Linked DNA regions of Homo sapiens. The protein of the gene in region 5 interacts with the protein of the main gene of each other region in a biochemical or structural test. Each region holds a gene or a part of one and is shown on either strand. Other genes may lie near its edges.

Region 1 (4,162 bases), on a different chromosome or scaffold from region 5:
GTGCCACATAATGTATGATGTATACAAAAAAGCCTGAGTTCCAAACACATCTTGGATGAGAGGTTGGGACTGTGGGGGATCCCTACACTGGTTAGAGTTCTAGACCCAGAGCAGGGTTATGGTCAACGGCGCTCTGGCCACAGAATGCAGCAGAGCAAGGACTGTGGAACAAAGACGCGGCTTACATGAATTTTTCACTTACCGTGCTGGGTGCTGGTGATTCAGAGATGGAAAGGCCCTAGCGACACCCCCCTCCACCCAGGGAGCCCACGGGCCAGCAGAGGGACCAAGGGGCACAGGACGGGTGGGGAGCAGAGGCGGATTCCCTGGCTGTGGAGGTACTGTCTATACGGGGTGCAGGAGACATCTCCATACAAGGGGGCCCTCACCTGGGGAGGTGGTGACCGCAAGCCTGACAGCCCCAAAGCCTTCAGAGATGCCGCCTGGGGACACTTTGGGAAAGTCCAGGCGGAGGACACCTGGGAATGTGATAGTGACACAAATGACCGGAGAGACTTGCTCTCAGTCACTGAGTCTGGCTGACTCACTGAAGATTAGGGCCTGAACTTCCCCCTCTGTAAATGGGGTGCAGGCCCTGGCCCTGCCTTCACAGTGCCCCTCGGTCCCCTACAAGCCTTCTCCGCAGGGTGGGATCGGGTCTGCCTGGAGCATCCCCACAGCCTATGGGTCAGCAGAGAAGCAGGCGCAGAGCTGGGGTGAGACGGTCAGGGCCGGTCCTGCCAGACACCTCAGATCACTCCTCTTCACAAATAATCCCATTTTACAGCCCAGGAAGAGAGAGGCCGGACCACTGCCCAAAAGCCTGTGGCCTACAGCCTGCCAGGTGCGTCTGCTCGCAGAGCAGGTCTGCGCAGCACCGAGCGGTCAGCAGGGGCAATGCTGGGCACTGGCCAGCCGCGCCAGGACCATCCCTGCTGACCTCGGCGGGGTGGGGCGGAGCGTGCAGGGTCTGGCCCGGAAAGCCAGGGCAGGCTTTAGAGAAGGGCCACCGGACGGATGGTCCGAGGACCGGCATGGACCCGGGTCCCAGCGAGGGCGGGGGGAGCGTAAGGCTGGGCCTGGGCTGCGGCACCGGGGAGGTGGCGGGGAGGAGGCCGGCAGGAACAGCCGTGCAGGGCGGGGGCGGCGCGGGTCTGGTCGGGTGACCCCGGGCGCGGCCAGGGCTGTAGGAGGCGAGGGCGTCGCCCCGAGGCCGTGGTCTCGGGTCCATGGTGGGGGACCTGGGTCCCCGCCCCCCCGGGCCGCCCTGGGTCGCGCGTGGGCGCGGCGGGCGCCGATTGGCTGCCGGGCGCGCGGGCGGAGCGGGCGGCGGCGGCGGCGGCGCGGAGGGGCCGCTCACCCCGCAGCCCGGCCTCGGCCTCCGCCGCTTGTCGTCGCGCCCCGCCCGCGAGCCCGCCCCGCACGTCCCCCGCCGGCGGCCACCATGAGCACAGGCCTGCGGTACAAGAGCAAGCTGGCGACCCCAGGTGAGCCCAGCGCCTGCCCGCGTGCCCGCGCGCGCCTTTGTCCCCGCCGCCCGCGCGCCTCTCACCGTGTCTCTCCGTCTCTCCCCCGCCCGCCGGCCCGGACCCGCTCGGAACCGGACCCGGACTCGACCCCGACCCCGACCCCGCAGAGGACAAGCAGGTACGTGCGCAGCGCCGCTCCCCCGCCGGGAGACCCGGCCGGCTGTCACCCATTGTGACACTAGCGCCTTGGGCGCCCAGGCGCGACCCCGCCCCCGCCGGCCCTCACCCAGCCCTGTCGCGATCACCGATTGTCAGCCGGGCAGTGCCGCCGCGCCTGGGGCTTCAGAGGAGAGGAGTGGGGGCCCTGGTCCCCGGACCCGCACAGCAGGGACCCTGCGCCCCTCCCCAGGATGGGGGGATGGGCAGAGTGTCCCCCTCCCACAGGGCCAGTGCCAGCATCTCCTGCTGACCTGGCCTGTAGGCCATGAGCTGGGGGTCCTGGGTGAGGCCATGGTCGTGGCAGGCCACGCTGGGGGAGGGGAGTCAGGCTCCATCAGCCAGCACAGTCCCTGAACAGCCCTACAGCAGAGGGCCTGTGGTCACCACCCACCTCCCCTGCACCTTCATGCCCCTTTCCCTCCCCATACACAAATTTGAGTGTTCAGGTCTGCAACAGGGACTCTTCCCCAGATTGGGAACCCCCAGGGTCTGGTCTGAGTCATTCTGGGTGCCCAGATGGGTCCTGGGACCCTGTGGGTACAAATAGGCTTGTGGCTTCTCAAAAGGGTTGGCCCCACCCTCCAGGAAAGCAAGACTGGACAGGAGGCTGGTCTAGGCACCTGGGTGAAACCCAGCCGAGCTCAGGGTTAAACAATGCTGTGAGGCCCCTGGGGTGGGGCGGGGGCTGACAACCAGGTGGGCTGGGGGGGCTGGGGAAAGCCTGCTGGTGTCCTCTCTGGCTTGAGCTCAGCCATCTTTGGAGGAAAAAAGAAGAGCCCAATTCTGGCACCAGGGTGGCACTGGCAGCCCCCATCAGGGATGGAGTTTCTCAGGAGCCATGGATGCTGAGTGGAACTCCAGAGTCCTGGCCCAGGGTGCAGCAGGCAGGGCAGGAGGGCGGGCAGGGGGGCCAGGAGCTGGGGGAGTCACTGGCTGACCAGTGCCATTCTCCTGGAAGGGACACACCCCACCCAGAGGTGGATGAGGCTCTCTGGGAGGGGCCCCTTGGGGAGCCAGGCTGGGAGCTGCCTCCCCATCACAGCAGGTCAGACAAAGCCTGAGATGCAGGGACACATGCGTCAGGCTACTGTTTGAGGGAAATGGAAGGAACTGAGGCTGGGAAAGCCAGGAGGCCAGGCCCCTGAGGCTTCTCCTGTGCCTGCAGGTGTCCCCAGCTTGACCCAAGGGCACTCTGAGACCCTGGGCTCCAGCCACTGCTGTTGGGTGCAGCCAGGTTCTCTTGCCCATTACTGCAGGGTGGGGACCCCCTCCTGCTGAGGTGCCCATCGTTTGAGGTCAACCGGGAGTCCACCTCACCCCATCCCAGGCCTCCCAGGCCTCCAAGCCCAGAGGAAGAAGGCACTGTGTGGCCAAGGAAGGGAGCCCCGGAGCAGGAGCCAGGCCAGGTGTCTGGGTGACCAGTGGGTCTGGGGGAGCTGGAAGCACATGGCAGCTTCCCTGCTACCACCGTTGCTGAGCCTCAGCCTGTCCAAGCATTCTTTTTGCTCTTTGAAAGGGGGCTGTAGAGGCATTGGGGGAGTTCCGTCACTACGCTCTGTGCCCCCACCTCCTCACAGGCAGCACCGGTGATCTCTTGGCCCTGGCTGCTGCTCCCAGAGCTGACTCGGGTGATTCTAAGAATGGAAGTGCCAGAGAGGCTCAGGCATTGGGAGGAGATGGGCGCAGCTGTGTCATATGGCTCAGGAAGCCCTGGGAGTATCTTTTGTCACTTGGGGACCAGAGAAAGGGGGTGGCAGGTACGGCCCCTTCCTTGAGGCTCCCCCAGGGAATCCACAGGCCCTGACTGGGCCCCAGTGGGTGGCAGGGCAGGTGGGTTGAACGCTGAGAGTGAGATTCTTGCCCTCCTGACCTGGGCCTCCCCAGAGGCTGTGCCTTACCAATGGGGAAACTGAGGCAGGCAGTCTGAGAGCCACACACTCTGTTAGACACCTCCTAGCCTGAGGCCTAGGCCCAGGGCTGTCTGTCTTCCTGGAGATGCCCTGGGCCTGAGATGCCAGCCTGTCTGGGTGGGTGCTGGGCTTCGAGGTGTGGACCCTCAGTTGGAAACTGGGTGGGACTCAGCCTAGAGGCTTCCTGCAGGTCAGGGCCATGGAAGGCTGGGGCCAGTGAGGAGGCTTTCTGGCAGCAAGGACTGAGGGATGCACTGGTAGAGCTGGGGGGCCTGGAGCTGCCCCCTTTCCCTGGGATGAAAGGCTCTCCTGTTCCCAGCTGTGGGCCTGCCCCTCCTCCCCAGGTGCCAGTGGTCCAGGCCCCACAACAGGACCAGGGCCTGGACAGGAAGTGGAGGAGGTCTCTCAGCCAGGAGAGCCTAAGGGAGGGCTGGTGGCGGGTGGGGTGGGGTGGGGTTGGGGCCTCCAGCTTCTAATGTTCTAATGTGCAGGGGCTTGGCCTGACCAGTCCTACCCTGGAACCTTTCCAGGCCCCATGTCCTGCTCCGCTGGGCTTGCCTGTTG
Region 2 (4,103 bases), on a different chromosome or scaffold from region 5:
CGGGAAATCTCACTAATGTAAACCTTACTGAAAATCCTAACTGCTGTGATCAAGGCTGCCATAAAGGGAAGCCCGGAAGAGGCGGGGAGGCTGCCTTGGAACAGGGTAGTGTAAGGATGTGCCAGAAGGCCTGCTGGAGGTTGCAGCCCTTTGAGCTGGACTTGGGGATAGTGTGGTTTTCCAGGCAGAAGGAAGTGAAGGATTAGGTCGGCCTGGTAGTACTTGGCACACAACATGCGCCCAATAAATAAAATGGAAATAAAACCGCGGAGTGTTCTACTTGTGTTGACTGACATCAAAACAAAACAAAAAACCCTCAGAGTGAGGGGAGGCACGGGAGGGGCTGTGCCGGGCAAGAGAGGTGGCAGGAAAATCCAACGCACGGCGCCTATGCAAATACTCGTGTGAGGCAGAAAAGAGGCTCCGCCCCGCTCGAAGTTCCAAGCATGCGCAGTAGCGGCTCCTGCGCCTCTAAGGATCCGCCTCTTTCCTTCTTTCTCAGCCTGGGTTCCACCCCGGGAGGCCCGCTGTATGAGATGGAGGGCGGGCTAAAGGCGGGACGAGACTCGATTGAGCGCAATTATGACCAATCACCTTGCGGAATATTCGGCCTATAGCGAAGGAGGAGCTCAGAACAAAAAGGAGACCCCACCCCCGCCGACGGTGAAAACCTATGAAACCTGGGCGGAGGCGTGCGGAGTCGGGTAGAGAGCGAAATCACGCCTCTTCAGTCAGCCACGCCCTTTATTCTTGCTCGGCCTCGCCACAGAGAGCAAATCAGATTGGCTGGGCGACAACCTCAAAGGGCGGGGCTGCACACGTTCACTACGGGAATGAGGTAGCGGTGGAGGGGGCAGTTGGGCGGGGATAGGCCGTCCTAGCTAAGGTGGTAAAGGCCAATAACTCTTCAGGCTGCCTCTCCTCGAAAAGTCATCTTCTCGCGAACCTTTAAAATGCCTTCCTCCCCAAGCACCTCAAGGGACTAGAACTGAGTGCTTCATTTGTCTTTTTTCCTCCTTGCAAAAGTCCCGTTTGCCACCATGGGGATGTACCAAGTGAGACCGAGTAGGGGGAACGAGTGGTGATTGACGCGCCAGGTTACTGGCCACTGCTCACCTAGGCGCTAGCAAACTTCTGCCAAGATCGGAACTGAGTACTAAACAGCCTCCACAGTTCTCCCTGGTGCCGTCTCCGGCTTGGCGCCGCATCCTCCTCTGGGCTCGCGATGGCCGCGTCCCCTCCCGCTGCGGACGGGTCCTTTGGTACATGCAGTCCGAGGTGAGTCCCCTCCTTTCCACTTCACCCTTCCGAGCGCCTGCGTGCGCATGCGCGGAGCGCGGCGCGCGCGGCGGTTGGGCCGTTGGCTGTTCGGCCCTGGGATCCGCCGCCACTCCGCGATCAGACCGCTCTGTGCCGCGAGCCGCCGTGAGCACTCGGATTCAAGCCGGCGCCAACGAGTCCGGGGGCATCGCCCGCAGCGGCCAAGCTCATGGCCGGCTGAGCGGGACGCCGCCTCCGCCTCAGCCACCGCCGCCGCCGCCGCCTCCTCCTCCTCAGCCGGCGGCGGCCCGGGCCCAGCAACCATGGCTGAAGACTACTGGGACGGGCGCCTGCGGCGAACAGGAGGAGAAGGAGGTCGCGCGGCCTCATCCCGGGCCGCCGCCCCAGGCGCCGCCGCGCCGGCCCCGCGGCTCTGAGGTTGCTCGCGCGCCCCCGCCGGTGAGCGCGTCCCCGAGGCGTGGAGGCTGCCCCTCCTCCTTCAGAACCCACCTCGGGCGGTGCCCAGGGGTCTGGGCTGCGGGGCTGGCAGGTGCCCCCACCCCCGGCGAATTTCCCAGAATGCACCGGGGCGGGGGGTCATTTGGGGCCTCCCTGACCTTGGCCCCGCCCTGGGCCTGTCCTGGGAGCTGGGGTTGGGTAGTGCTGTGGGTGCTAATGGGGACCTGGGGGAGTCAAAGGACCAAAGGGTGTGGAAATGGGTGACAATGGGGTGAAAGACTTGGGGGGGTTGCTGATGGGGGTCGGAGCATGTGGCAGTAAGCCTCACGCCAATAAGTCGTGTAAGGTTCAAGGCCCCGTGTGTGCTTGTGGAAGGAGGGCGGGGTGCGGAGCGGGTGAGGGACCCGAGGGTGTATAACGGGGGGTAGGGTGTCGAGGAAGTTCTAAGACATGCTCATAGGGATTATGTCCGCAGAGAGGCCCGGTGTGTGTTCATGGGGGACAGGGTGGCACAGGTACCAGAACGTGTGTTGGTGGGGTCAGGGCTCTGAGGCCTGGTGCGTGGCGATGAGGCCCTGGATGGTGTTAATACTGCGTGTCTGTCCGTGGGGCCTGCAGTGTGTGAGAATGCAGTGTGTGCTTGTGGAGGGCAGGTAGCTGAAGGACTCGAGTGTGGTGTGTGCGCCAGTGGGGGTCATGGCTGTAGAGGGTGTATGCCTGTGGCCTCGAAGGTCTAGGTAGTTTGGGACCCAGTATATGCTAATGAGGGCAGAGTGGAGGAAGGACCTGAGGGTATCTAACGGAGGAAGGACTGTGGAATACCTGAGCCTGGCCTAAAGGAGATGAGAATTGCGTGTCTGTCTGGGCCCAGGAAGGAGTGGTGGGGAAGTGTCTTAGCACTGTCAGAGGCTTAGTGGACGAAGGGTAAAGGTGATGTGAGGTGTGAGTGTGTCCATGGACACAGGGAATGTGAGTCTCGAGGGCACACTAGGAAGGAGCAGGGTAATAGAAGTACTGGTGGTTGCTAATGTGGGTTTAGAGACATAGAGGCACTTCAATGTGTGCCATTTCGAGAGTCAGCTGTGTGAAGTCTGGAATATGCTAATAAGCATCAGAACCTTGTGAAGATTGTGCCCTTGTGTCCGCGGAGGACCAGAGTATGTTGAGGTTCCAGGGGGTGCTACTCGGGGGTAGGGCTGCGGAGGGGATCTAGTGTGTAATAAGGGGGATCAGGGCTTTCATGAAGGGATCTAAGTGTGAACCAACAAGGATTATATCTGTGGAGATATCTCTGAGCAGAGAGCAATAGAGGACAGGAATGTGTGATGATCTCGGTGTGCTAAAGTGGATTACAGCTAGGGAGGGCTGAAGTGTGTGCTAATGGGAGTCAGGGCTGAATGAGACCTGTGTGCACTAATGAGGGTCAGGCCATGGTAGAACAGTGTGTTTGTGTGTCCCTGCGGAATAGGGCTGAGTAAGGGTTCAGGGTGCACTAATGGGGAGGCAGGACTGTGTGAGGCCCGGCGTGTGCTAATAGAAATCAGGCCTGAGTGAAGACTCAGTTTGTGCTGACAGAGGGGACAGGACAGTGGAAGGACTGGAATGTGTGTTAAGGATGGTCGTAGCTGTGAAGGGGCCTGAGTGTGGGTAACACTGGTTAGAGATCTATCTGTAAGGTTCACTTTATGTTAATAGCATTCAGAGCAGCATGAAGAAGGTCCAGTGAGTGCTAATGTGGGTCAGCTATAGAGTACCCCAAGTGCATGTTAATAGAGGTCAGAATCATGTAGGGGGAACAGTACGTTAATGAGGGGAGTCAGTACTATGGAGAAGGTAACAAGCAGCTAGGCCAGGGAGGGGCCCAAGAATGTGGTGGCAAGAGTTACTTAGAGGAGGCTAAGTGTGTGCTGACAGAGTTCAGGGCGGTATGTTATGTGTTAGGGCTTTGAATGCTGATGGGTATATGAGATAATAGCAGGTAAGATGTAGTGAGGCCTCCTTGAGGGTCTAGCGTGTATTAATGGGGATCAGGACATAGGGTGCGATGACCAAGTCCTTAGTGGTTGGTGTGTTGAGTATCCTTGAGTATGAGAGTAGTCTGAGGATGGGTGTATGTCTTTGGGGATCAGGAAGGGTCAGGCAGGACATGTGCCTTTTTTGGGGTAAGGTTTTATGTCCAGTTTCTTGCTCCCTCCTTTTTTGAAATCTAAAAAGCTCATTCAACTGAAATGATATTTAAAAGTTTCCTTGCGTATAAATGTTCAATTATCTCTGTTCACAGGGGCATGTCTGAGACCCCCATCCCCCTTTCTGGGAGTGTTATGTGATATACAGATTTTACACCCCATCTTCCTAAAATCCCAAAAAACTGAACTCCAGAGCAT
Region 3 (4,107 bases), on a different chromosome or scaffold from region 5:
CAGAGAAGACTTTTAAGGTGAGTGGGATGATGGGTGGGGAAGGTTGAGGAATGACAGATTTCTATATGAAAGTCGCTGTGGCTACAATGTGGAAAATGGATTAGATGGGGCCTGGGCAGAGGTGGGGGAAGGCTTTCCCATTGGCTTCCTCCTTGCCATCCCCATAGCCATGATCCCCAGTCCAGATTTTTGTTGTCTCTTCTTGTCTTGCAGCAGAAAACCCCACTACTATTGTCCCTAGCAACTTACCTTCAGTGTGGCTGTCTCACTTCTGACAAAAGAAAAGAAAATCAACAATCCTTCGTTGGGCTCAAAATAAAGTTCAGAGTCCTTAGTCTGGCTACAGGTCCCTTCAAACCTGGCCCTTGTCTCCCTCACCAGTGTCACATCCAACCACTTGTCATCAATACCTGAGCTCTAGTTCATACAAGGGAGACTCGAGAGCTGGACCGCAGTTTGAGGTGAAAGGACCAGAGGAGTAGAGGCACCGAGAGCCAAATCTGAGGCCGAATCAGAGGTCTAGGATGTTAACTGAACAGAAAGTAAAGGAAACTGGCCGAAGCGGGGGTTTCAGGCAGTTGGCTTCCAGCATCTTCAGGCGGTTGGCTACAAGAACATCAAAGACCAACATTTGGGAAGCACTCAGGGACAAGACATCCGGAGGCTTGGATGCAAGACCAAAGGTGTAGTTGATGGGAGGTAGTTCCCCAGGACAGGCCCCCGAGGACTGACAGATGGGAGCTTAAGGACAGGACCCCCAACCAGTAGAGAAATGAGGTTCCCGAACAGCCATGACCACAGCTGGCGCAGAATGGGCAGGACTCAGAGACTTGTAACTCAGAAGGTCAAGGACAATGGCTGACTTGAGGATGACTTGGTAGGAGGAGAATGATGAGAACATTCTTTATATTCTACCTGTCTGGAGACAGAATGAATTCTAGAACAAAAGGAGCAAGGCCAAGCTTCCAATCAAGGCTAGAGCTAGAAGGTCATGGAGAAAGGCGTGGGCAGCTCCTGCCTTCGCCTGCACCAAGTTCAACAAACACACAGTCATAGCCATGGCTGGTCCCCAGAGCACACACAAGGCAAGGATGTTAGTGGCCAGCCCCATGCACCCCGATGAGCTATGCTCGCTTGGGAGACCCATCCTCCTTGAAGGTGAGTGAAATCTCAACACGAGTATGGTTCTGAGAGTAGCTCTGTAACTCTGAGGATGGTCTCTGGAGACCATGACTGTGTACAGTTCACATGGTAACCAGAAGACTATGACATACTTCAGAAGGTGGTGAGGTCATAGAACACAAGCTTTAAAGTAAGTGAATCATGTGTGCCTCATTTATTTTTAAAAGCAACTTCTGAGAAGGGCTTAGAACAAATTTTTTCCCGGAGTGCCATTTCCCAAAGGTACTCACAGAACAATCAGGTGTGACCATAATGGCTGCACTGAGTTGTCTCTTGGACAGTGTCAGAAGGGACATAAAGAAGGTGGACAGAGAACTAAGGCAACTGAGATGCATCGACGAATTTAGCACACGGTGCCTGTGCGACTTGTATATGCACCCCTATTGCTGCTGTGACTTGCACCCATATCCGTACTGCTTGTGCTATTCCAAGCGATCACGCTCTTGCGGCCTGTGTGATCTCTACCCATGTTGCCTGTGTGATTATAAGCTTTACTGTCTGCGACCATCTCTCAGAAGTTTGGAGAGGAAAGCCATCAGAGCCATAGAAGATGAGAAGCGAGAGCTTGCCAAGTAAAATAACTTATTTTTAAATTTTTATAGTCGGTATATTAGCCTTATAAGTTGGAATAAGGAAAAATATGTGACAATCAATAGTTGAACAAAGATTAAAAGGGTTCAGGATAATGACCCTGGTGACTTAGGAAAGATTTAAGGAAAGAAGAGTAAATGAGTCCATGATGGGAATTGTAGGGTTCTCAAAAGACAATGTAATGATGTCGATTGGCAAGGTCGTCGGTGGTTTATAGCAAGAATGCCAGTATGATAAATAATGCGGCTTTAATGAAGGGAAGAAACAGGGGGTGTCATTAAAAAGCCATTGGAAGCAGCAAACTAAACATTTTTCCTGGTTATGAGTAAAGTGATTTGAGTATATTTGGACTTACAGAAATGACTACAGGAGAAGTAATAATAATAGATCAAATCCTTAATGTGTGCCAGAGGCTTTACAAGCAGGAGAGCAAATTGAACAGTAGAGGCATTGCCTTGGTTTTGTGGGAATATCATTCTCCTATCCCCCCACTCCAGGCAAAGACTTACCTTGTATCTGGAATTAGGTCTATCATGTTGGCCTCCCCTCTAACTCTAGCAAAGGTCTTGCAAATAAACTATGGCACTGAGTTGTAGCTTTCAGGATAGACTTGAAAGGCTTTTTAATTGAATTGGGTAATTAAAAAGAGTCAGTTTTTTAAAAAAATTTTTGTTTTAGATTATATTTTCTTTTTGCCTGGAGAAAACTTTCCTTTTCTAACTTTTTACATATGCCATTTAGTCTGTTACTGTTGATGAAAAAGATGGTTGAAAGTGCTGTCCCTGGTTAAATAAATAATACATTCATGCACTGGAATAATAAGTAAATATAGAAAGGATTGATGAAGCATCTTACATATTGATGTATTAAGTCAAACAAGCAAAGTGCAGAAAAACTGATAGACAGATGACAGATAGATAGATAGATAGATAGATAGATAGATAGATAGATGATAGATAGATAGAGTCTCTTGACAACAGTGACAGTGATGTTTCTTTGGAAAAAGCAATAGGAGGCCGGGTGCATTGGCTCATGCCAGTAATCCCAGCACTTTGGGAGGCGGAGGCGGGCAGATCACCTGAGCTCAAGAGTTCGAGACCAGCCTGGCTAACATGGTGAAACCCCATCTCTACTAAATACAAAAAAAAAAAAAAAAAAAAATTAGCCAAGCGTAGTGGCACGTGCCTGTAATCCCAGCTACTCGTGAGACTGAGGCAGGAGAATCACTTGAACCCAGGAGGCAGAGGTTGCAGTGAGCCAAGATTGCACCACTACACTCCAGACCGGGTGACAAAGTGAGACTGTCTCAAAAAAAAAAAAAAAAAAAGGATAATTATTGTCTAGGTCACCAGCCACCAATGGTCAGGAATGAACCTCCCTCATAGCCTGGGAGCTTTCACCTGTAAATTCATCTATACTCTTTGAACCAATGTTTGTTTTTATTTCTTAGGGCATCAAGTCACATAAATTGCTCACACTGTGAGGCAGGGACTCTTTTTAAAATATTTGGTCCAAGTTAAGGTTTCCTTGTGAGCAGATCAGTATCCACTCTCCTCCTACTTTTGGATACTTGAATACCCTTGTCCAGGTCTTTCCAGCCTCTGTCTTCCTGGCTTCTCTCCTATCCCCAGACTCTACCAATTAAAATCCCTCTCTGTCCTGTGCTGTCTACTCTCTTGATGCCTCTTTCAGAAGCCTTGTTTCTTGGCATGCAGTAGAAACAGCTTCAAGCTTAATTCTCGGCAGTGTAGTTTAGGCAAGAGGTAATGTTTTCTCTGGTTTGTGATGCTCTTCCTGACAGCGTCTGGGTCTTTGCCTATTTTTTCTCTGCCTGCAGGCAATATGTGAAGCTGGTGATGTCTTTACATTAATTTCTGGATCTCGGAAATGATAACTCCAAGTCCATTGTAGAAATGACCTCAGGCTTGTCCGCTTTATCTCTTCCAATTCACACCACCTTGTGAAATTTCTATGCTCTATTTCTGACAACTTGACATTTCACTCTCCAGAAGGGCTTAGTGTCACTTGCAAACCTAAATATTCAATTTTCCTGAATATGGGTGAAAATGTTAAACCCTGATTCTAGCCTCAGTCCCAGAAGGCCCCCAGTGTAGTATTTTTTCTTCTAGTGCAGTGCCTTTTATTCTTATCTCTAAGCTAGCGCCTGATCCATAACTAAATAGATGCAGAAATATCATGTTGATTCAATTTTTTAAAACAATCTTTGGTGTGAAAGCTTGCCCAAGGCTTTTTGAGTTTAGAATTCATATTCACATGACCTTCCTCCCCTTTAAAGAATGCAAGGGGGTTGGTTAGTTATGACATATCCTTTCA
Region 4 (4,019 bases), about 15 Mb from region 5:
CTCAGGTGGTGGTTCCCACCTAATCACCTAGGTGTCATCCTTAGTGTCTCTCTCCTCCACCCAAACAGCCAATCAATTGCCAAGTCCTATACATTTTCCTCCTAAATATTCCTCAGATCCAGCCCTTCCCCTTCCTCCTCATATCTTGTGTCCCAGCTCAGGCTATAATCCCTCGATAACAACCTCCTTCCAGCCTCCTTGTCCCCAGTCTTATCTCCCATGCATCCATCATCCCAGCAGCCTATCTGTACAGGTTCCTCCCTGCCTCAAACCCCTTCTGTGATTCCTCTGTCTGAAGGGATGAAGTCCAAGTTCCTTAATAAGTCTCCCTTTGATATGGCCTTTCCACCCTTACAGCCTCTCCTCTAGCCACTCGCTGCCTCAAACCATCTACGGTATAGAGGTTGGCCTGCCCGCGGAGCCGACTTCATCTTGAAATTCTTCATCATTTTGTAACAAGCAGCTGTGCATTTCCATTTTGCACTGGACCTCACAAATTACGTTGCCCGTCCTGCCTGCCTGTTGTTGCTTGCACCCCTCTTGCAGTTTGTGGCCACCTAAGCTTTGTCTGTGTAGTCTCCTCCACCTAAAACTCCTCTTCCCACATCACCCAGCTATCTTCAGCTCTTCGTTTAGACTCAATGTAGGTGTTCTCTTTGGGACGTCTCACCGACTCTCTTCCTTCCCCTTCCCTGCCCTAATCGCCCAACACGTTGCAGGTGCTCAACCATGTCTATTAGAGAAACTGAATGAGGAGGCAAAGCATGACAAGTGCCACAAGAGACCTGCACACTGCTCTGGATGGTAAAGCGACGCAAGGAGGGAAGAAGGTATTTGCAACGGCCTCCCAGATCGGCGCTAGGACCCCGCCAGCAGACGTCTCAATCTGCGTGGAGAAGACCCAGTGCCCGCCAGGGGAAGCGGCTGCCAGGCTGGGCTCTCGAGCGCCGCCTGTCGCAATCCCACGGCCGCTGCAGCGCACCCCCTCCCGTCCCCTGCCCTGAGCCCGCCTCGCGTCTCCAATTGGCTGTCTCCATTCTCCCGCCCCTCCCGAGCTCAGCCATTCGGAGCCTGGGGTGGGCGGGGCTTGAGGCCTGAGTGGAGCGTAAACCCTGATTGGCTGTACGGAAGGCGGCGACGTGGCCGAAGGATGCCCGTTTGTGTCTAAACGGAGGCTCGGCCACAACGCCACTGGATTGGTGGTAGGGCGGGGCGGGCCACAGTCTCCAGCCTGAAGCGGAAGTGGAGGAAAGATGGAGGTGTGGGGACAGGAGCTGGGTGTGCTGGGGACTGGCCGCGGACCCCTAACCTGTGTCTCCGGTCTCCCTCCGGAAGCGGCTCAACCCAGCCCATCGCTCTGGCCCCGTTCTGGCCCTGCAGGGTGGTGGTTGGGACGTTGAAATGAGCGCGCGAGTGGTACGTCCTCTCTCCGCGCTCACGCCCCCCTCCTCACCGTGTTTCCCGCCAGGACCATCAGCACGTGCCCATCGACATCCAGACCAGCAAGCTGCTCGGTAGGAGGGGGCGCCACCGCGCAGCTGGCTGTCGGGGGGAGGCCTGTGCGTTGCCCCCTGTGTCCAATAGCCGGGAGCTCTGACCCCTGAAAGCCTGAGTCGAGATGCTGACCACTGGCCTCGTTCTATGCCCCATCTGTGGCCAGACCTGCTTCCCTGATAGCAGCGGGAACGAACCATATGTACAGTCTGTTTGACCTGCGTTTTCTCCTTTAATAACATATGTTATCGTATCATTCAGGGACAGGATAAATGACTCGCTTTAAAAACAGTCAACCACTGCCGGGCGCGGTGGCTCATGCCTGTAATCCCAGCACTTTGGGAGGCCGAGGTGGGCGAATCACCTGAGGTCAGGAGTTCGAGACCAGCCTGACCAACATGGAGAAACCTTGTCTCCATGTCTCCATGACTAAAAATACAAAAAAATAAAAATAAAAAGTAGCCGGGCATGGGAGCACATGCCTGTAATCCCAGCTACTCGGGAGGCTGAGGTGGGAGAATTGCTTGAACCCCGGAGGCAGAGGTTGCGGTGAGCAGAGATCTCACTATTGCACTCCAGCCTGGGCAACGAGAGCGAAACTCCATCTCAAAAAGAAGACAAAAAACAGTCAACCACTAAGTGGCACATCTGAATTGGAACTTAAGTCTGTCTGACCCACTGTCCATGCCTTTTGCATTATGCCAGGAAAAAAAAAAAAAACCTCATTTAAAAAGCTTCCACCTCCCCCTTGATTTTAGGAGGAAGAGGGACCTAAGACCCAGTTGCAAATGAAAACCTTTTAGTGTCCAGGCCATCTCCAGGTTGTCTGTATGGGGCTTACATACTTCCTCCCCAGTTCATAGTCAGGGAAGGCCTCTTCATCTGATCACACAGCTCCTGGCATTTTAAAATGCTTATTGGATTCATGGATTTGATGCCAATCTTGTCCTTAAGATGGTGTCTGTTTGACTACCCCAGTCCGTTGCTTCTAGTTCTGTGACATCAACAGAATTTTTCTTTCTGAAAACTTTACAGGAATATAGCAGAGAGAGTATAACTGATACTAGTGTGGGACCCCAGCGTTTGACCGGTTGGCAGAGTTCAAGTTCTGAATTCACCACTCTGTAGTGCCATTTAGTCAGTCCTGCTTGGTGGTCACGGGGGAAGCTTCTTTAGCCTCCCTTCAGATTTGTACTGGCCCTTCAGCCCATGTGCAGTCTTGGTGTGTGAGCTTGTTCTTGGTCATGAAAAGGACCAATAAAATGACCACCATTCATTGAGGGTTTTTTTTTGTACCAGGTGCTGTTTTAGGCACTTGACATGATAAAAATGATCACTGTCATTTTTTGAGTCCTTGCCGTGTCTCAGGCACACTGTTCAGTGTTTTACCTGCATTCCCTTTTCTAGTCAGTGTCTTATTATTCCCCATTTTACATGTGGGAAAACTGAGGCACAGAATAGTAGACTTGCTCAAGAAACTTGATAACGAGAACCCAGGACCATCTGACCACAAAGCTCAGCTCTTAGCTCTCACTGAGGAAATATGCATGGCTCTGAAGCCACAAATCTGGGCCCAGACTTTGAGAGGTCAGTCCCATTGGTATTCACATGTACAGGGTGGTACTTCACTGTTCACAACAGAGTCATGTTATCTAGTCCTTAGGGCGCTGTAGGTATTAGGGGCTTTGCAGCTGTTCATTCATCCAGTACTTGGCATAACCATCTTGTATTTTCCATTGTCATGGTTAACCCCAGCCCTGAGGAAATGGAAGTTGAGCAGCATCCTCTTGTCAGGAAGAAAGATATAATTACCCATAGAAGCAAAAATATTATGGGGAATTGAGAATGGTCAAAAGTGGCACTTTCAGGACCAATTTAAACTTTTTGTTATCCCTGTGTTGAGGCAATTGCTCTATAAAAATCACACTGCTAATGAAGTCAGATTGTCAGAGCCTGGTTTAGCCCCAGGCATCTCTTTGGGCTTGTCTTTATTCCCATCTTCCCATGACCCCCATACTTTAACCAATGTAAAGAAAACTTTTAGACTAATTTCAGTGTATTTCACTCGAATTAGTGATGGAATTTTGGTGATGTGAATGGGAATGCTCTAATTTGGGTGCTTCTCATGTAGATTGGCTGGTGGACAGAAGGCACTGCAGCCTGAAATGGCAGAGTCTGGTGCTGACGATCCGCGAGAAGATCAATGCTGCCATCCAGGACATGCCAGAGAGCGAAGAGATCGCCCAGCTGCTGTCTGGGTCCTGTGAGTGCTTAGGGGCTGTCACTGGAGTCCCCTCTTTGCTGAGGTAGTATGTATCAGCTGAGCTACTCTCTTGTTATTTAGCCACCAGGGCTGGCCTTTAGAGAGGGAGCGATTTTTATTTGAGGTATAGATGCTGGCTTCTTCCACTATGAAATGATTTAGGGAAAAGCTACACACTAAAGTTACTGGCAGTATATTATACATGAATCAGCCACCTGCAGTGCCCAGAGTAGGTGAAGAAGATACTTTAGTTCTCGAAATC
Region 5 (4,179 bases):
AGCCACCAATGCGGGAGAATTAGAAAGAAAATCAATAAAGTACACATTTGTGTTTTTACAGCCAGTAGGGTAAGGTGGAAACCAAAACCAGCAGCTGCAAATGATCAGTTGTAGAAATCAGCAGGCTTCCAGAGCAATCAGGAGTCTCACTCCCCGTCTTGTAATTGTCTCCAAGATCCGGCTGTCTCACTGGTCCTTGCTGGGCAAGGCTTCCTCTTTAGAAGAAACTCAACTGTTTAGAAACAGCTTTAAATTAACGGGTGGGGGTGGGGTCACCACATCGCCTTCCCCCCAGCTCTGCAGGACAAATGTCATGTGCACCAGCAAGAGGCCTTAGCCCTTAGGTGGGCACCGGCTTGGTCTCAAGGTATGGCATCCCTCACCTTGCCCAGAAGGCAGGCGTTGCTAATGGGCACCTGCAGCTGTCCTGGCATTTGCCACAGGGTGACTGCACTACATTATTCAAAAGAAAAACTCACCCAGGAAAGCTGTCCCCAGCTTCACCCCACCTCTTTAGCTGGGACCCAAATTGAGAGAAATTAATGAGTCAAACCAGCTCATCGGCCAATACCACCAACGTGGCTGGGAGCAGCAGACAAGGGGGTAGGGGGGCGAGTTCCATTTCTCCACTAAAGAAAAGCCCTTCTCCCTAAAAAAAGAAAACAGCAAATCAGGGCGGTGTGTGGTCAAACGACCAGACACAATCTTTCCACTAGACCCGCTCAGCTTCGCCTCGCCTAGATTGAAGATGTCCCCGGGTGGCGGGGATCTTGCCTCACGACCCCACTGGCAGCTCAGTTAGGGTGGCTGGCTCCAGGAGCCTCTGGGAGAGTGAATAACTCCACACAGGAGCCAGAAAAGGGCCTCCAACCAGAAACCCCAATTCCTCCCTGGGCCAGGCAGCCAGAGGCCCCTCTCTAGCTCCATACAGGGTGCAGCCGGCAGCCTTGCCTACCCTGGACCCAGCAAGGGCACAGGCGGCAGGGGCAGGTCAGTCCTTTGAGTTCCCCAAAGTGGGAGGTCAGTGGCCTGGGTGGCTCTGAATACATCTTCTGGGTTTTGCGCAAGGCTCGTGAGTTCAAAAGTGCCCAGAGTTCTTGGCAGGGATGAAAAAAACCCCAGGGAGAGACTGTGGGAAAGGTGAGGCCCTTGGTGGCTTTGCTAGACACATACTGTACACAAAACTGATTTAATAATAAATTCTTAAAAATGCATTGAATCCTTGAGCCATGACGCAGGCTACAGTGCTCACCGATCCAGGCCTAGGAGGAGCCGCTTCTTGTCCTCCTGGCCGCTCTCGTTCTTCAGGTCGGAGAAGACCTGTGTGAAGTAGTGTGGGTCGGCATTTATCTGCAGCATCTTTGAGCTCATGAGGTTGATGACAGAGAGGCAACGGTCCCAAAAGGCCTCCTTGCAGCTCTCCACCAGGAAGGGCTTGAGCGGGTAGGAGATCTCGTTGCCCATGTAGGAGTAGGAGAGGTACAGGCATGTCAGCAGGACGGCCTGGAGCTCGTGATCCGAGCCCACCTCGGAGGAGATAACATCCCTGCAGAGCATGTAGAGGAAGACCACGTTGGCCGGCGTGATGAAGCCCTGGTCCTGCCAGCCCTGCAGAAGCAGCGAGCGGTCCACGCTGCGCAGCCAGAGCACGGGGTCCGTGGGGGACAGGTGCTTCAGGCGGTAGCACCGGCGGCAGAGAAACTCACCCAGGCAGCGAAGCAGCTCACTGGTGGACGCCTGGACGATGACCCGTTTGGGCGTCCCTGCGGAGGTGACGGCAGGGTGAGGGGCTTTCTTGACTGAGGAGGAGCCCCCGGTCTGGGAACCCGAGAGCTGGCTGGCCGGGGGTGCAGGCGGCTGGGCCGGTGGGGGCTGGGCGAATGTGGACAGGTTGGCGCACGACAGCGACTTCTTCAGGTTCTCATTGTTGAGGTGCGTGATGTTGTTCTGGTAGCTGCTGTTGGGCTGCACCTTCTTGGAGTTCTTCTTCTTGGCCGACACGGCCACGATTCTCTTCCAAGGCAGCACGGAGATGATGGAGTGGCGCTTCAGGTTCTTGTCCTTGGCGTTCTTGCTGTTCTGTACGGCCGTATAGTGGCCCACGGTGGCCGCGCCATCCTCAAACAGCGTGGCCTTCCGGTAGCTGGGAGACAGGGACAGCACCGTGCCCATGGTGCTGCTGCGCGCCGGGCGGGGGCTCGCGCCCCTGCGCGCCCAGCCTGCCGGCCGGAGGGATAAAACCGCTCACCGAGCCTGCGGCGGCCCCGGAGAGGAGGCGGGGGCGCTCCCGGGAAGCGTGCTGCCCCCTTGGATCTGCCTGGAAAACAAGATGGTTCTTAGCGCCAGGCTGGGCTCCGCGCCGCGCCCCTGCGCCCCTGCGCCCCTCCGCCCCGCGCCTCGGCGCACCCCGCCGCCCCAGTCCCGGGCCCTACCCGCGCCCCCGCGACGCAGCCTCGCCGCCTCCACTGCAGCACCCCCGCCCGCCGCCGCCGCTGCGGTCCCCAGGCGCAGCCGGGAGGGGCCCGGTCGCCGACGGAGGCGGCCGAGGACCCCCGCCTGGACACCCCGCACGGGCGCGACCCCGGTCTCCGCTCCCCAGGGCCAAGGACGGCCGCCCAGCGCAGGCTTACCCGGCAGGCGGCAGCTCCTGCGCTCCGCGCCCTCCGCAATGCGCGCCGCGGCCCCGCCGCCGCGGTCCCGGCGCTCGGCGGCGCTCGGGGGCGCTCGGCGGGGATCGGCTGGGCTCGCGCTCGGCGGCGGCGACGGCGGCGGCGGCGGCGGCGGCAGCTAGGGAGCTTCTGTCCAAGGTTCTGCAGGCACCGCAGCCCCGCCCCCCGCTCGGCCGCCCGCACCTTCGCCGCCGCCGCCGCGCTCCCGCTCCCGCTCCCGCTTCCGGCGCGCGCCTCAGCGCCCTCCCTCGCGGGGCGCGCGCGCCGTCCACGCTCCGGCCTGGTCTCGCCGGGGAGTCGCGGCCGTTGGTGTCCTCAGCTCGAGCCGCGCACGGTGCGGGTAGGACGCGGCAACGAGCGGGAGGCACCTCTACGCGCCGGGCCCCATCTAGGAGCCGGACTCCGCGGCTGCGGCGGGACACGCGGCGTCGGCCCGCCCCGCCCCTCGGGGCCGCCCCTCCCGCACAGCTCGCCGCCCGCTCCGCGCCGCCGCCCAACAGCAGCCCGGCCGCCGGAGAGTCCTCGGCGCCCGCGCAACCCAACTCTGCCGACGCGGGGCGGGCGCCGAGCAGGGCGGAGCCGAGGGCCGACCCCGCCCGCGTCCCGCCCAGACACGTGCTGCCTTTGTTCCCGCCGCGGCGCCCGCAGCTGCCGGCCGCGGGGGCACTCTCGGCCGAGTCCCTGCCCTGGCAGCGCGCGGCCCGCCCTCTCTGAGGCTGCCGCCCTGGCCTGGTGAGGAGCCCTCCGCCGAGGCCAGGGTCCGGAGCTCCCTCCTTCCACCTGACATCCCCGTCCCTGTGGAAAGCAGCCAGGGAGCGCGGGGAAGAAGGCCCTGGGCGGGGAGAGGCGACGCCTTTACTGAGGCCTCCCGAGTGCCACGCGCACCTCGAGTGGACAGTCCAATCGGTTCTGGCCACCCCTCCGGGGCCTCCGTTCCCTCATCATGGGTAGATGACCGCGGCCGAAGTGGGCCTCAGAGATCCAAGCCAGAGAAGCGTGGCCCGTAGCCAAGCCTGAGCCCGTCACAAATATGACCTCTAAGTTCCCACTCGCCCTCTTATTTGTCATATTAAAGCTGAAGCAACTGCCCCTCCGGCCAGCTTTCTGACCCTCTTAAACGTTTTCAATTCTAAGTATGTATAATTTGAGAACTTGATGCTAGCGAAATTGAGTAAAATTCTGTTTCTGAAAGCTGTTCCTGTCAGATGTGAATCCAGATCCTTCACAAAGGCTGTTGTTCATTTACTATTTTACCTTGTTTCTGGAGATCGAGTCAAAACTGACCACAAACCTGGGAAACAGGAAACTTAAGCCCTGTCTTAATCCAGATTATCTCTGGACCTAGAGATGAGGGAGTGGCTCTCCAGAGGAGAGGATGCCACCCAGTTACCTGACCACTCCAGCCGACTAGGCTTTCACCAGCCCTGTCAACTGTCCTAGGGGGAACAGAAAGGGAATCTGGCATCATTCAAAATGGTGCAATCAAGGCAGAAAGTGCTGGGTTTTGTTT

What was found.
Region 1: the proteins of CDK5R1 (region 5) and SEPTIN5 form a complex in vitro, tested with the Homo sapiens proteins (one study listed by BioGRID).
Region 2: the proteins of CDK5R1 (region 5) and CDK16 form a complex in vitro, tested with the Homo sapiens proteins (one study listed by BioGRID).
Region 3: of the proteins of CDK5R1 (region 5) and ODF1, one has a biochemical effect on the other in vitro, tested with the Homo sapiens proteins (one study listed by BioGRID).
Region 4: the proteins of CDK5R1 (region 5) and CDK5RAP3 form a complex in vitro, tested with the Homo sapiens proteins (one study listed by BioGRID).

The regions. Positions count from the first base shown.
Region 1 is NC_000022.11:19,713,145-19,717,306, forward strand, and holds the start of SEPTIN5 (septin-5), read left to right. Parts: upstream 1-1,358; 5' UTR 1,359-1,444; coding exon 1,445-1,487; intron 1,488-1,552; exon of another isoform or gene 1,553-1,636; coding exon 1,637-1,647; exon of another isoform or gene 1,648-1,651; intron 1,652-4,075; exon of another isoform or gene 4,076-4,162. UniProt on the Homo sapiens protein: Filament-forming cytoskeletal GTPase. May play a role in cytokinesis. May play a role in platelet secretion.
Region 2 is NC_000023.11:47,217,387-47,221,489, forward strand, and holds the start of CDK16 (cyclin-dependent kinase 16), read left to right. Parts: upstream 1-1,294; 5' UTR 1,295-1,719; intron 1,720-2,898; exon of another isoform or gene 2,899-4,103. UniProt on the Homo sapiens protein: Protein kinase that plays a role in vesicle-mediated transport processes and exocytosis. Regulates GH1 release by brain neurons. Phosphorylates NSF, and thereby regulates NSF oligomerization. Required for normal spermatogenesis.
Region 3 is NC_000008.11:102,550,294-102,554,400, forward strand, and holds the start of ODF1 (outer dense fiber protein 1), read left to right. Parts: upstream 1-1,295; 5' UTR 1,296-1,434; coding exon 1,435-1,754; intron 1,755-4,107.
Region 4 is NC_000017.11:47,969,894-47,973,912, forward strand, and holds the start of CDK5RAP3 (CDK5 regulatory subunit-associated protein 3), read left to right. Parts: upstream 1-1,219; 5' UTR 1,220-1,253; coding exon 1,254-1,259; intron 1,260-1,468; coding exon 1,469-1,514; intron 1,515-3,625; coding exon 3,626-3,757; exon of another isoform or gene 3,758-3,800; intron 3,801-4,019. UniProt on the Homo sapiens protein: Substrate adapter of E3 ligase complexes mediating ufmylation, the covalent attachment of the ubiquitin-like modifier UFM1 to substrate proteins, and which is involved in various processes, such as ribosome recycling and reticulophagy (also called ER-phagy).
Region 5 is NC_000017.11:32,485,614-32,489,792, reverse strand, and holds the start of CDK5R1 (cyclin-dependent kinase 5 activator 1), read right to left. Parts: upstream 2,801-4,179; 5' UTR 2,631-2,800; intron 2,318-2,630; 5' UTR 2,173-2,317; coding exon 1,249-2,172; 3' UTR 1-1,248. UniProt on the Homo sapiens protein: p35 is a neuron specific activator of CDK5. The complex p35/CDK5 is required for neurite outgrowth and cortical lamination. Involved in dendritic spine morphogenesis by mediating the EFNA1-EPHA4 signaling. Activator of TPKII.